2 separate regions of the Homo sapiens genome follow, and region 2 is linked to region 1. Evidence: fine-mapped expression QTL. A gene starts in region 1. The other region holds a variant in brackets. All regions are shown on one strand. Distances are between the middles of the regions.

Region 1 (5,373 bases):
TAGCCGGGTATGTTGGCACATGCCTGTAATCCTACCTACTCTGGAGGCTGAGGCAGGAGAATCACTTGAACCCGGGAGGCAGAGGTTGTGGTGAGCTGAGATCGCACCATTGCACTCCAGCCTGGGCAACAAGAGCGAAACTCCATCTCAAAAAAAAAAAAAAAGAAAAGAAAAGGCTTCCTTGGATGCTAAGTCTTGAAGGCTAGAAAGTCAACTGGTCAACTGTCAGGTTGATGTAGGGAGGAGAATCTGGTGTGCATTTATTTATTATTTATATTTCACCAAAAAACACATAAACTCACTGGTGTGTATTTTAAAAAGAGGTCACAGACTGAGTGCGGTGACTCATGCCTGTAATCCCAGTGCTTTGGGTGGCTGGCCGAAGCAGGAGGATCACTTGAGGCCAGGAGTTCAAGACCAGCCAGGGCAACAAAGTGAGACCCTGAGTGTTGGTGCATGCCTGGAGTCAGCTACTTGGGAGACTAAAGTGGGAGGATCACTTGAGCCCAGGAGTTTGAGGCTGCAGTGAGCTATGATTGCACCACTGCACTCCGGCCGGGAGGACAGAGTGAGACTTTGTCTCTAAATAAATAAAGAATAAAATAAACAAGTCACAGCATAAGCAAACACACTGGCAGAAAATTCCTGGGTATATTTGAGAATTGTCTAGTTTGGTGGAAGTGAAGGGTCTGTAGAGGGAATCAGAGGGAGAGAAGGCTGGAGAGATCAATAGGAGTGAGATTTTGATTGGCTTTGAATACCAATTTAAGGAATATGGATTTAATTTGGTGACAGTGAAGAGCCACTGAAGATTTAAGGAGTAAACTAGCATGATCATTTTTAGATCACACTGGCTGCAGTGTGGAGGAGGGACTGGAGGTAAAATTACAGCAAGGAGGTTATTACAGTAATCCAAGTGAGAAATGGTGGCCTGGACCACAGCATAGATGGGTGGAATACAAGGGAATGGATTTGGGAGATTCAGTAGACAGTCTTATAGGTCTTGGTGGCTGATTGGATGTGGGGGTAGGGAGGTGAGAGGTAGGAGCCTAGGGTGACTGGCAGGGCTGCAGTTGGCTTTGTTCAGTACAAAAGCTCCTAATACCCAGGTCTACTCAACTTGCCAGATAGGCATTCTCACTCTCCCACACACCTGCCATCCACTGAAACGGTGTCTCAAAGAGTTAAAGGTCGATCTGCAACAAATAGCTTTTGTTTTCTCAAAAACCCAGTGTCATAATATTAGCTTCCAGCACATCAGGCATCAAGCCCTTTTACTTGGTAACACCACACCACTATCTCCACACCTTTACTCAAGCTTTTTCTGATATTTGGGATGTACATAACCCTCCTTCCTTCCAATCTATCTTTTCATATATAGCTCAATTCCATTTTTTCTGGCAAGACCAGTCTCAAGCTAGACCCAACCTACTTCTCCCTCTATATCCTCTCCCAGGACTGCTGTGAGCCACTCAGCAGAAGGAATGGGAAGTGGGTAGTCTCTTAAGCATCAGGCAAAGGGCTCAAGCTGAGCTGATTTAGCTTTGTAACTTAACTGCTCAGTGCACAGGGCACTGATGTGGGGAAATGTAACCGTGTAAATGGGGGTCGGGGTGCGGTGCTGAGACTGCTGTGCCAGGCAAGTGTACAAAGTTTCATTACCCAGCCCAGCACTGATGACTGGAAATATCATGAATTATCCTTCTGTTGGTAGAGGGAACAAACCAGCCAATTGTTTGCCTGTTCATCACCAGGAATGCCCTTCCTTCCTCAGCTGACCTAAATGATAGCTATGCAAACCTTCTAGGCTTTGCCCTCTCCTAAATCCTTTAGGAAGTTCCAAGGTGACTTTGCCTCACAGGTCCCTTTCTTCTTGTAAATTATATAGGTGACAATCTGAGCCACACACGCTACAGGTCATATGGTGTCTCCCGTTAACGAATCCGGCATTATATGGTGGCAAAAGGTTAAACATGCGACAACTTTTTTTTTTTTTTTTTTTTTTGACACGGAGTTTCGCTCTTTGTTGCTCAGGCTGGACTGCAATGGCGCAATCTCGGCTCACTGCAACCTCCGTCTCATGGGTTCAAGCAATTGTCCTGCCTCAGCCTCCCGAGTAGCTGGGATTACAGGCATGCACCACCACGCCCGGCTAATTTTATATTTTTAGTAGAGATGGGGTTTCACCATGTTGGCCAGGCTGGTCTCGAACTCCTCACCTCAGGTGATCCGCCCGCCTCGGCCTCCCAAAGTGCTGGGATTACAGGCGTGAGCCACCATGCCCGGCCTCGACCACTACCTTTTTAACCCAAGCCCCCACTGAAACTCTGTCCCTGTTGTCACATGGACACTGGGCTGCAGGAACCCAGGAGGATCAGAGGCTCCCGAGGCCTCACGCCAGTTGCAACGAAGCCAATCATATATTTCGCCCTAGAACAGCAGGAGGGATAAACTAACCTGGAAGGGGTAAACCTCGAAGCCAAAAGGACATAGCGTGTCCTCGATCTTCTGCTTCAGCTCTGCGACTTTCGGCTCCATAGCGCACGTTACACGCTGAGCTTGCTGGGGAATGAAGTCTCAAGGACAATTGGGCCGTTACGTTTTGAGTCAGCTTCGACTCCATTTCCCAGGTAGGAAATGGGTCCAGTAGCGGGACCATATTGCCTATGCGCGATGCATCTTGGGATGCGTAGTTCGTTTCCTCCTTGGAGACAGCCACACGAAATCAGGAAGACTCAGTTTCCCGGCAAGCTACACGGTGGGGGTGTGCATGTACGTGTCTCTTCTAGAGAAAGGTAGTTCCACCGCCTCCATCGCCGGTTGTGTTCGCAAGAGGCGACCTCAGTTTCCCAGGTGGCGCTGCGGCAGCCAGTCCAAAGTCGGACTTTCAAAACCAACCCGAAGTTTTGAACCCGGCGGCGGCAGTTGTCACTGGCACAGGTTTGGCGTGGTGGCGCCAGTGTACTACTTCTGGGGAGGTCTCAACCAGGTTCTGGCACCTTCAATCCCCACCTGATATCTGCGTATCATCACGGTATCCCGCTTTTCCCCCAGTTCCCCAAGAGCGTCCTTCCTTTCCCTAGTCACAGGATCGCAGTTTTGGTCTGATAGTGCATCCACCTACCCCAGTGTTGCATCCCCACTTCCCTCTTTCCATCTAACGTGGTGGCCTTTCCTGGGGATACCTTGGGTATCCCCCGCTAGGAGAGCAAGCACAAGACACCAGGGAGCCAGACCCCTGCCGCTCCCCTGCCACAGGATATGAATACGAGCCTCAGCTGGTTTGAGCAGCTGGATGTGCTTCTCAACGCTACTGATGGAAATGTGGTCCGGAATAAGGTGAGGGGTTGGTGGAGGTCCCCAGTTTGCGTGGGGAGGCTAAGGGACTCTCAGAGTTCATTGGCCTGTGCATCTGTTTCTTTTGTAGCAGTGGCTGTATCCTCTTGGGGTCTCCACAGAGCTCATTGGCCTGTGCATCTGTTTCTTCTGTAGCAGTGGCTGTATCTTCTTGGGGTCTCCACCGCAGGTAAGTAATGTCTCTTTCTACTTCCAAGCCCTTTCTCTTTCTGTGCCTTCCTCCAGTGCCCGTATCATCCATTATTCCTTCCAAATTCCAACTCTGTCCTTTCCTGAACTCTGTTTCCCCACACAGACCCTGCACTTAACCCTTCCTTATTTCCTCAGCCGGGGACCTGGCTGGGACCTGGATTTCCTCTCATCACTTGCCTCTGCAGTCAGGAGTCCAAGCTCAACAGCCTTGGGCTTTAGAGACTCCCATAGTTCCACAAAGGCTGAGCTGCCCTGAGTCCTAGAGCCCATCCTCTCTCTGGGGTGAGGTTGCTATTCTCTGATCCTAATTTCAATGTCAGGCTCAGGTGAGGCTTGGAATCCTTGGTGTGTATATGTGATGTTTGTGTAAGATGAGGATACTAGGGGTCGGGAAAAGCTGTTATACAGTAGTTCATGTGCTTTTTTCTGCCTGGGGAGGTGACAGGCACTAAGGCAGGCAGTGCAGGGCCTGCTAGAAGAGCGAGAGCAGCAGAAGTACCAGATCAGTGTCCTGGAAGGTATCTGGCCAGTTATTTTCTTCATATACACAGCTTCATATGTATGCACACAATTTTGCCACACACCTGTTGTGTGTGCACATGTGTCTTGTTTTGCAAGTAGAGTATCTAGGGTCTTGTGAAACTCTTAGAGAGGATGATCCCTAACTTGTCCCACTACAGCATCACTAAGGTTGCTGCAGGGGGCCCCAAAGGGGAGTGCTTTTCTCCTGGAGCAATGCCTGGAGGAGCTGAGAAAGGAACTGCAGGGCCTTCAGAGCCAGGTGTGGGAGCAAACCCAAGCCCAAGCCCAAGCCCAGATGCAAACAGGACCAGGAGAATGCAGTACTACCAATGGCCTTCCTCAGGAGCTGCAGACTGAGTAAGGGATAGTCAAGACCTTGCCTTCTTTTTTTTTTTTTTTTTTTTTGGGTTTGTTTTTCTTTTATTGATCATTCTTGGGTGTTTCTCACAGAGGGGGATTTGGCAGGGTCATAGGACAATAGTGGAGGGAAGGTCAGCAGATAAACAAGTGAACAAAGGTCTCTGGTTTTCCTAGGCAGAGGACCCTGCGGCCTTCGGCAGTGTTTGTGTCCCTGGGTACTTGAGATTAGGGAGTGGTGATGACTCTTAATGAGCATACTGCCTTCAAGCATCTGTTTAACAAAGCACATCTTGCACCGCCCTTAATCCATTTAACTCTGAGTGGACACAGCACATGTTTCAGAGAGCACAGGGTTGGGGGTAAGGTCACAGATCAACAGGATCCCAAGGCAGAAGAATTTTTCTTAGTACAGAACAAAATGAAAAGTCTCCCATGTCTACTTCTTTCTACACAGACACGGCAACCATCCGATTTCTCAATCTTTTCCCCACCTTTCCCCCCTTTCTATTCCACAAAGCCGCCATTGTCATCCTGGCCCGTTCTCAATGAGCTGTTGGGCACACCTCCCAGACGGGGTGGTGGCCGGGCAGAGGGGCTCCTCACTTCCCAGTAGGGGTGGCCGGGCAGAGGCACCCCTCACCTCCCGGATGGGGTGGCTGGCCGGGCGGGGGGCTGACACCCCCACCTCCCTCCCAGACGGGGCGGCTGGCCTGGCGGGGGGCTGACCCCCTCCACCTCCCTCCCGGACGGGGTGGCTGCCGGGCGGAGACGCTCCTCACTTCCCAGACGGGGTGGCGGCCGGGCAGAGGCTGCAGTCTCGGCACTTTGGGAGGCCAAGGCAGGCGGCTGGGAGGTGGAGGTTGTAGCGAGCCGAGATCACGCCACTGCACTCCAGCCTGGGCGCCATTGAGCACTGAGTGCGGCCTTGCCTTCTTGAGGCCT
Region 2 (5,373 bases), 32 kb before region 1:
CCGGGTGCGGTGGCTTATAATCCCAGCACTTTGGGAGGTCGAGGCGGGTGAATCACCTGAGCTCAGGAGTTCGAGACAAGCCTGACCAGTATGGTGAAACCCTGTCTCTACTAAAAATACATTAGCCAGGAGTGGCGGCAGGCACCTATCATTCCAGCTACTCGGGAGGCTGAGGTTGGAGAATTGCTTGAACCTGGGAGGCAGAGGTTTACAGTGAACCAAGATTGAGCCACTGCACTCCAGCCTGGGTGACAGAGCAAGACTCCGTCTCAAAAAAAAGGCCAGGCGTGGTGGCTCATGCATGTAATCCTAGCACTTTGGGAGGCCAAGAGGTCCCCACCTGAGGTCAGGAATTAGAGACCAGCCTGGCCAACATGGCGAAACCCTGTCTCAACTAAAAATACAAAAATTAGCCAGGCGTGGTGGTGCATGCCTGTGATCCCAGCTACTCGGGAGGCCGAGGCAGGAGAATTGCTTGAACCTGGCAGGCAGAAGTTGCAGTGAGCTGAGATTGCGCCACTGCACTCTGGCCTGGTCAACAGAGCAAGATGCCATCTCAAAAAGAAAAGAAAAGAAAAGTTCAAATAAAGATTAGGTAGGCTGGGAGTAGCAGTTCACACCTGTAATCCCAGCACTTTGGGAGGCCAAGGTGGGAGAATCTCTTGAGCCCAGGATTTCAAGACCAGCCTGGGCAATATAGTGAGACCTCATCTCTTAAAAAAAAAGACAGGTAAAGAGCAACTTAAATACATTTATTTTTTATTTTTTAAATGAATTAAAAAATTTTTTTTTTGGAGACTGGGTCTTACTATGTTGTCCAGGCTGGAAGTAGAGCAGACATTTTGTGACCATAGGGTTATCATAAGAATAAAAGTAGGCCAGACTCACGGCTGTAATCCCAGAACTTTGGGAGGCCGAGGCGGGCAGATCATGAGGTCAGGAGATCGAGACCATCCTGACCAACATGGTGAAACCCCATCTATACTAAATATACAAAAATTAGCTGCTCATGGCAGTGCGTGCCTGTAGTCCCAGCTACTTGGGAGGCTGAGGCCGGAGAATCGCTTGAACCAGGGAGTTGGAGGTTGCAGTGAGCTGAGTTCCTGATACAGTGTGGAGTGATCATACCAGTTTTTAACTTGTATTTTTTTTTTTTCTAATCAAAAAACTATAGTCACAGCACTTTGGGAGGCCAAAGGAGGAGGACTGCTTGAGCCCAGGAATTGAAGACAAGTCTGGGCAACATAAAGAGTCTCTGTCTAAACAACAAAAAAAAATTTTTTTTTTTTTTTTGAGACAGAGTCTCACTCTGTCACCCAGGCTGGAGTGCAGTGGCGCAATCTCAGCTCACTGCAAGATCCGCCTCCCGGGTTCACGCCATTCTCCTGCCTCAGCCTCCCGAGTAGCTGGGACTACAGGCGCCTGCCATCACGCCAAGCTAATTTTTTGTATTTTTAGTAGAGACGGGGTTTCACTGTGTTAGCCAGGATGGTCTCCATCTCCTGACCTCACGATCCACCCACCTCAGCCTCCCAAAGTGCTGGGATTACAGGTGTGAGCCACCGCTCCTGGCCAACAAAAAAAAATGTTTTAGGTCGGGCGTGGTGCCCAGCACTTTGGGAGACCAAGGCAGGCGGACCACCTGAGGTCAGGAGTTCGAGACCAGCCTGGCCAATATGGTGAAACCCCATCTCTACTAAAGATACAAAAAATTAGCCTGGTGTGGTGGCGAGCTCCTGTAATCCCAATTTCTCAGAAGGTTGAGACAGGAGGATTGCTTGAACTCTGGAGGCGGAGGTTGCAGTGAGCAGAGATGGTGACACTGGACTCCAGCCCGGGCAACAAGAGCAAAACTCCATCTCAAAAAAAAAAAATTTTTTTTTCAAATTAGCCAGGCGTGGTGGCACCCATCTATAGTCCCAGCTACTCAGGAGCCTGAGGTAAGAGGATTGCTTGAGCCCAAGAATTCCAGGCTGCAGTGAGCTATGATGGTGCCACTGCACTCCAGCCTGGGCAACAGAGCAAGACTCCGTCTCTAGAAAAACTAAAAGATAATGTGTAAAGACACATTTAGTAGTGTGTTAACTATACAAAAAAGACACTGTATAGTTTAAAAACAAATCCTACACAGCCTTACTTTTCAATTTTTTTCTTTTTTTTTTTTTTTTTGAGATGAAGTCTCGCTCTGTCGCCTA[C/G]GCTGGAGTGCAATGGCGCGATCTCAGCTCACTGCAATCTCTGCCTCCCGGATTCAAGTGATTCTCATGACTCAGCCTCCCGAGTACCTGGGATTGCAGGCACACACCACCATGCCCAGCTAATTTTTGTATTTTTGTAGAGATGGGGTTTCGCCATTTTGGCCAGGCTGGTCTTGAACTCCTGACCTCAGGTGATCTGCCCACTTTGGCCTCCCAAAGTGTTGGGATTACAGACAGGCATGAGCCACCGCGCCCGGCATCAATTTTTTCTTTAAAGGGAGTAATTTGTATACAGAAGGGTTAAATGCTTTTTAGACAGAAAAAAAAATGTGATAGAACCAACTTATTAATCATCTTCATCTTCCTCCTCCTCATCTTCCTCATCTTTCTCCTCTTCCTTCTTTCTCTTTCGTTTTTTCAGCCTTGACGACTCCCTTTTTTGCTATATCAGGCTTTCCTTTAGCTTGATATGCAACAATTTCCATTTCCTATTTTTCCTTTAGCTTCTCAGCCTTCTTTTCATAAGGCTACTTGCCATCCACAGCAGTGTTTTTTTGGTCATTGTTTTTTGAGACAGAGTCTCACTCTATTGCCCAGGCTGGAGTGCAATGGTGCGATCTCTGCTCACTGCAACCTCCGCCTCTCGGGTTCAAGCGATTCTCCTGCCTCAGCCTCCCGAGTAGTTGGGATTACAGGCGTGCACCACCACGAGTGGCCAATTTTTGTATTTTTAGTACAGACAGGGCTTCACCATGTTGGCCAGGATGGTCTCGAACTCCTGACCTCGTGATCTGCCCACCTCGGCCTCCCAAAGTACTGGGATTACAGGCGTGAGACACCATGCCCGACTGCAGCAGTGTTATTCCACATCTCTCCCAATTTCTTTGCAACATCACCAATGAATAGGCCTGGGTGTTCTTTGATTTTTGGGCAATACTCAGAACAGAAAGACAAAAAGGCTACAGGAGGCCTTTTGGATGCACTGGGATCTTTGAACTTCTTTTTATCTCCCCTTTACGGGGGACATAGGTTTTCATTTCTTTTTTATAACGGGCCTTGTCCACCTTTGCCATGTCTTCAAATTTTCCTTTCTCTTTAGCAGATACAGTTTTCTACCTCTCTGAGCACTCTTAGAAAATGCTGGCTGGGCGTGGTGGCTCACGCCTATAATCCTAGCACTTTGGGAGGCTGAGTCGGGTGGATCACCTGAGGTCAGGAGTTCGAGACCAGCCTGGCCAACATGGCAAAAACCCTGTCTCTACTAAAAATACAAAAATTAGCCAGGCATGGTGGCGCACACCTGTAATCCCAGCTACTCAGGAGGCTGAGGCAGGAGAATCACTTGAACCCGGGAGGCAGAGGTTGCAGTGAGCCAAGATCGCGCCACTGCACTTCAGCCTGCGCGATGGGAGCAAGACTCCATCTAAAAAAAAAAAAAAAAAAACTCTGAGAAGCTGACTGAAGCCTCTGGGTGCTTATGTTCCTCCCGACAAGTTTTGCACGAAAAATGCATATGATGACATTTTGCCTCTAGGTTTCTGAGGATCTCCTTTGCTCATGTCTAGTTATTTTTCCTCAGTGAGGCACAGAGTCACCCTGTGCCTGTCAGGCTCTCACTTGCCCTGGTGCTGTCTCTATGGAGCTTAACATACTGTAACAGCTGTCTACTTCTTTTTTTTTTTTTTTTTTTTGAGACAGAGCCTTGCTCTGTAGCCCAGTCTGGAGTGCAGTGGCATGATCGCCTCCCGGGTTTAAGCGATTATCCTGCCTCAGCCTCCAGAGTAGCTGGGATTACAGGTGTCCACCACCACGCCTGGCTATTTTTTTTGTATTTTTAGTAGAGACGAAGTTTCACCATGTTGGCCACGCTGGTTTAGAACTCCTGACCTCAAGTAATCTGCCTGCCTCGGCCTCCCAAAGTGCTAGGATTACAGGCGTGAGCCACTGTGCCCTGCCTTACTTGCTTTTTATCATTTTGTTTTGCTTTTTTTTTGTTGAGGCAGGGTCTTGCTCTGTTGCTCAGGCTGGAGTGCAGTGGTGCATTCATGGCTCACTGTGGCCTAAACCCCCTAGATTCAATCAATTCTCTCATCTCAGCCTCCTGGGTAGCTGGGACTACAGGCATGCGTCATCATGTTTGGCTATTTTTTGTTTGTTTGTTTAATTTTTTGTAGAGATGGGTACCCCTATGTCGCCCAGGCTGGTCTCCAACTCCTGAGCTCAAATGATCCTCTCATCTCGGCCTCCCAAAATGCTGGGATTACAACCATGAGCCACTCCACCTGGCCCTGTCTACTTGCTTTTTTTTTTTTTTTTTTTTTTTTGAGACGGAGCTCGTCTTGTTGCCCAGGCTGGAATGCAAATGGCGCGATCTTGGCTCACTGCAACCTCCACCTCCCAGGTTCAAGCCATTCTCCTGCCTCAGCCTCCCGAGTAGTTGAGATTACAGGCATGTACCATCACGTCCGGCTAATTTTGTATTTTTCGTAGACACGGGGTTTCTCCATGTTGGTCAGGCTGGTCTTGAGCTCCCAACCTCAAGTGATCCACCCGCCTCGACCTCCCAAAGTGCTGGGATTACAGGCGTGAGCCACTGTGCCCGGCCCTGTCTCCTTGTTAAATGGGAAAAATTAATCCCCTATTTGGTTAAGCTTGTTATTTGCAGTTAATCTGTTACTTTCAGTTGCATTCAATTTTAACAAATAGATATCCTTGATAACAGTGTTTCTGAAATTGGTATTTGTAGGCCTCTGTACATTCAAATATAATTTTAAAAATTGAATCCTTGTAAATTGAAGAATTCAACTGTTTTCTTTTAGTGATAATCTAAAAAAATTTAACATAAACATATTCTAAATCATCTGTATGAAAAATAAGCCCGGTAGTGGTGACTCAGCCTGTAATCCCAGTACTTTGAGAGGCCGAGATGGGTGAATCCCTTGAGACCAGGAGTTCGAAACCAGACTGGACAACATGGCGTAACCCTGTCTCTATTAAAAATACAAAAATCAGTCAGGCATGGTGGCACATACCTGTAATTCCAGCTACTTGGGAGGCTGAGGCACAAGAATCACTTGAACCCAGGAGGTGGAGGTTGCAGTGAGCCGAAACCATGCTGCTGCACTCCAGTCTGGGCAGCAGAGCAAGACTCTGTCTCAAAAAAAATAAAATAAATAAA

Alleles and levels. Positions count from the first base shown, and alleles are read on the strand shown. Sizes are in standard deviations (SD) of each study's normalised expression.
For the expression in liver of the gene that starts at base 2,571 in region 1, allele G in region 2 goes with a lower level than allele C (small effect, 0.23 SD a copy in GTEx).

The links. PIP is the estimated chance that this variant, and not a neighbour inherited with it, causes the effect.
Region 2: its variant is the best candidate, but not a certain one, in a credible set for the expression of MMACHC in liver (GTEx, PIP 0.67).

The regions. Positions count from the first base shown.
Region 1 is chr1:45,497,498-45,502,870 of GRCh38, reverse strand. MMACHC (metabolism of cobalamin associated C) reads right to left here and starts at 2,571. Exons shown (of 4, transcript NM_015506.3): 1 at 2,458-2,571. The coding sequence starts at 2,538. It overlaps CCDC163 (CCDC163 homolog), which reads left to right and starts at 2,798. Exons shown (of 5, transcript NM_001102601.3): 1 at 2,798-3,339; 2 at 3,428-3,526. The coding sequence starts at 3,262. RefSeq lists enhancers at 2,577-2,776, 2,326-2,858.
Region 2 is chr1:45,529,308-45,534,680 of GRCh38, reverse strand. It overlaps the pseudogene HMGB1P48. Among named protein-coding and RNA genes, the nearest start is that of PRDX1, 10 kb to the right of the region's middle. The variant C/G (reference allele first, on the strand shown) is at 2,196.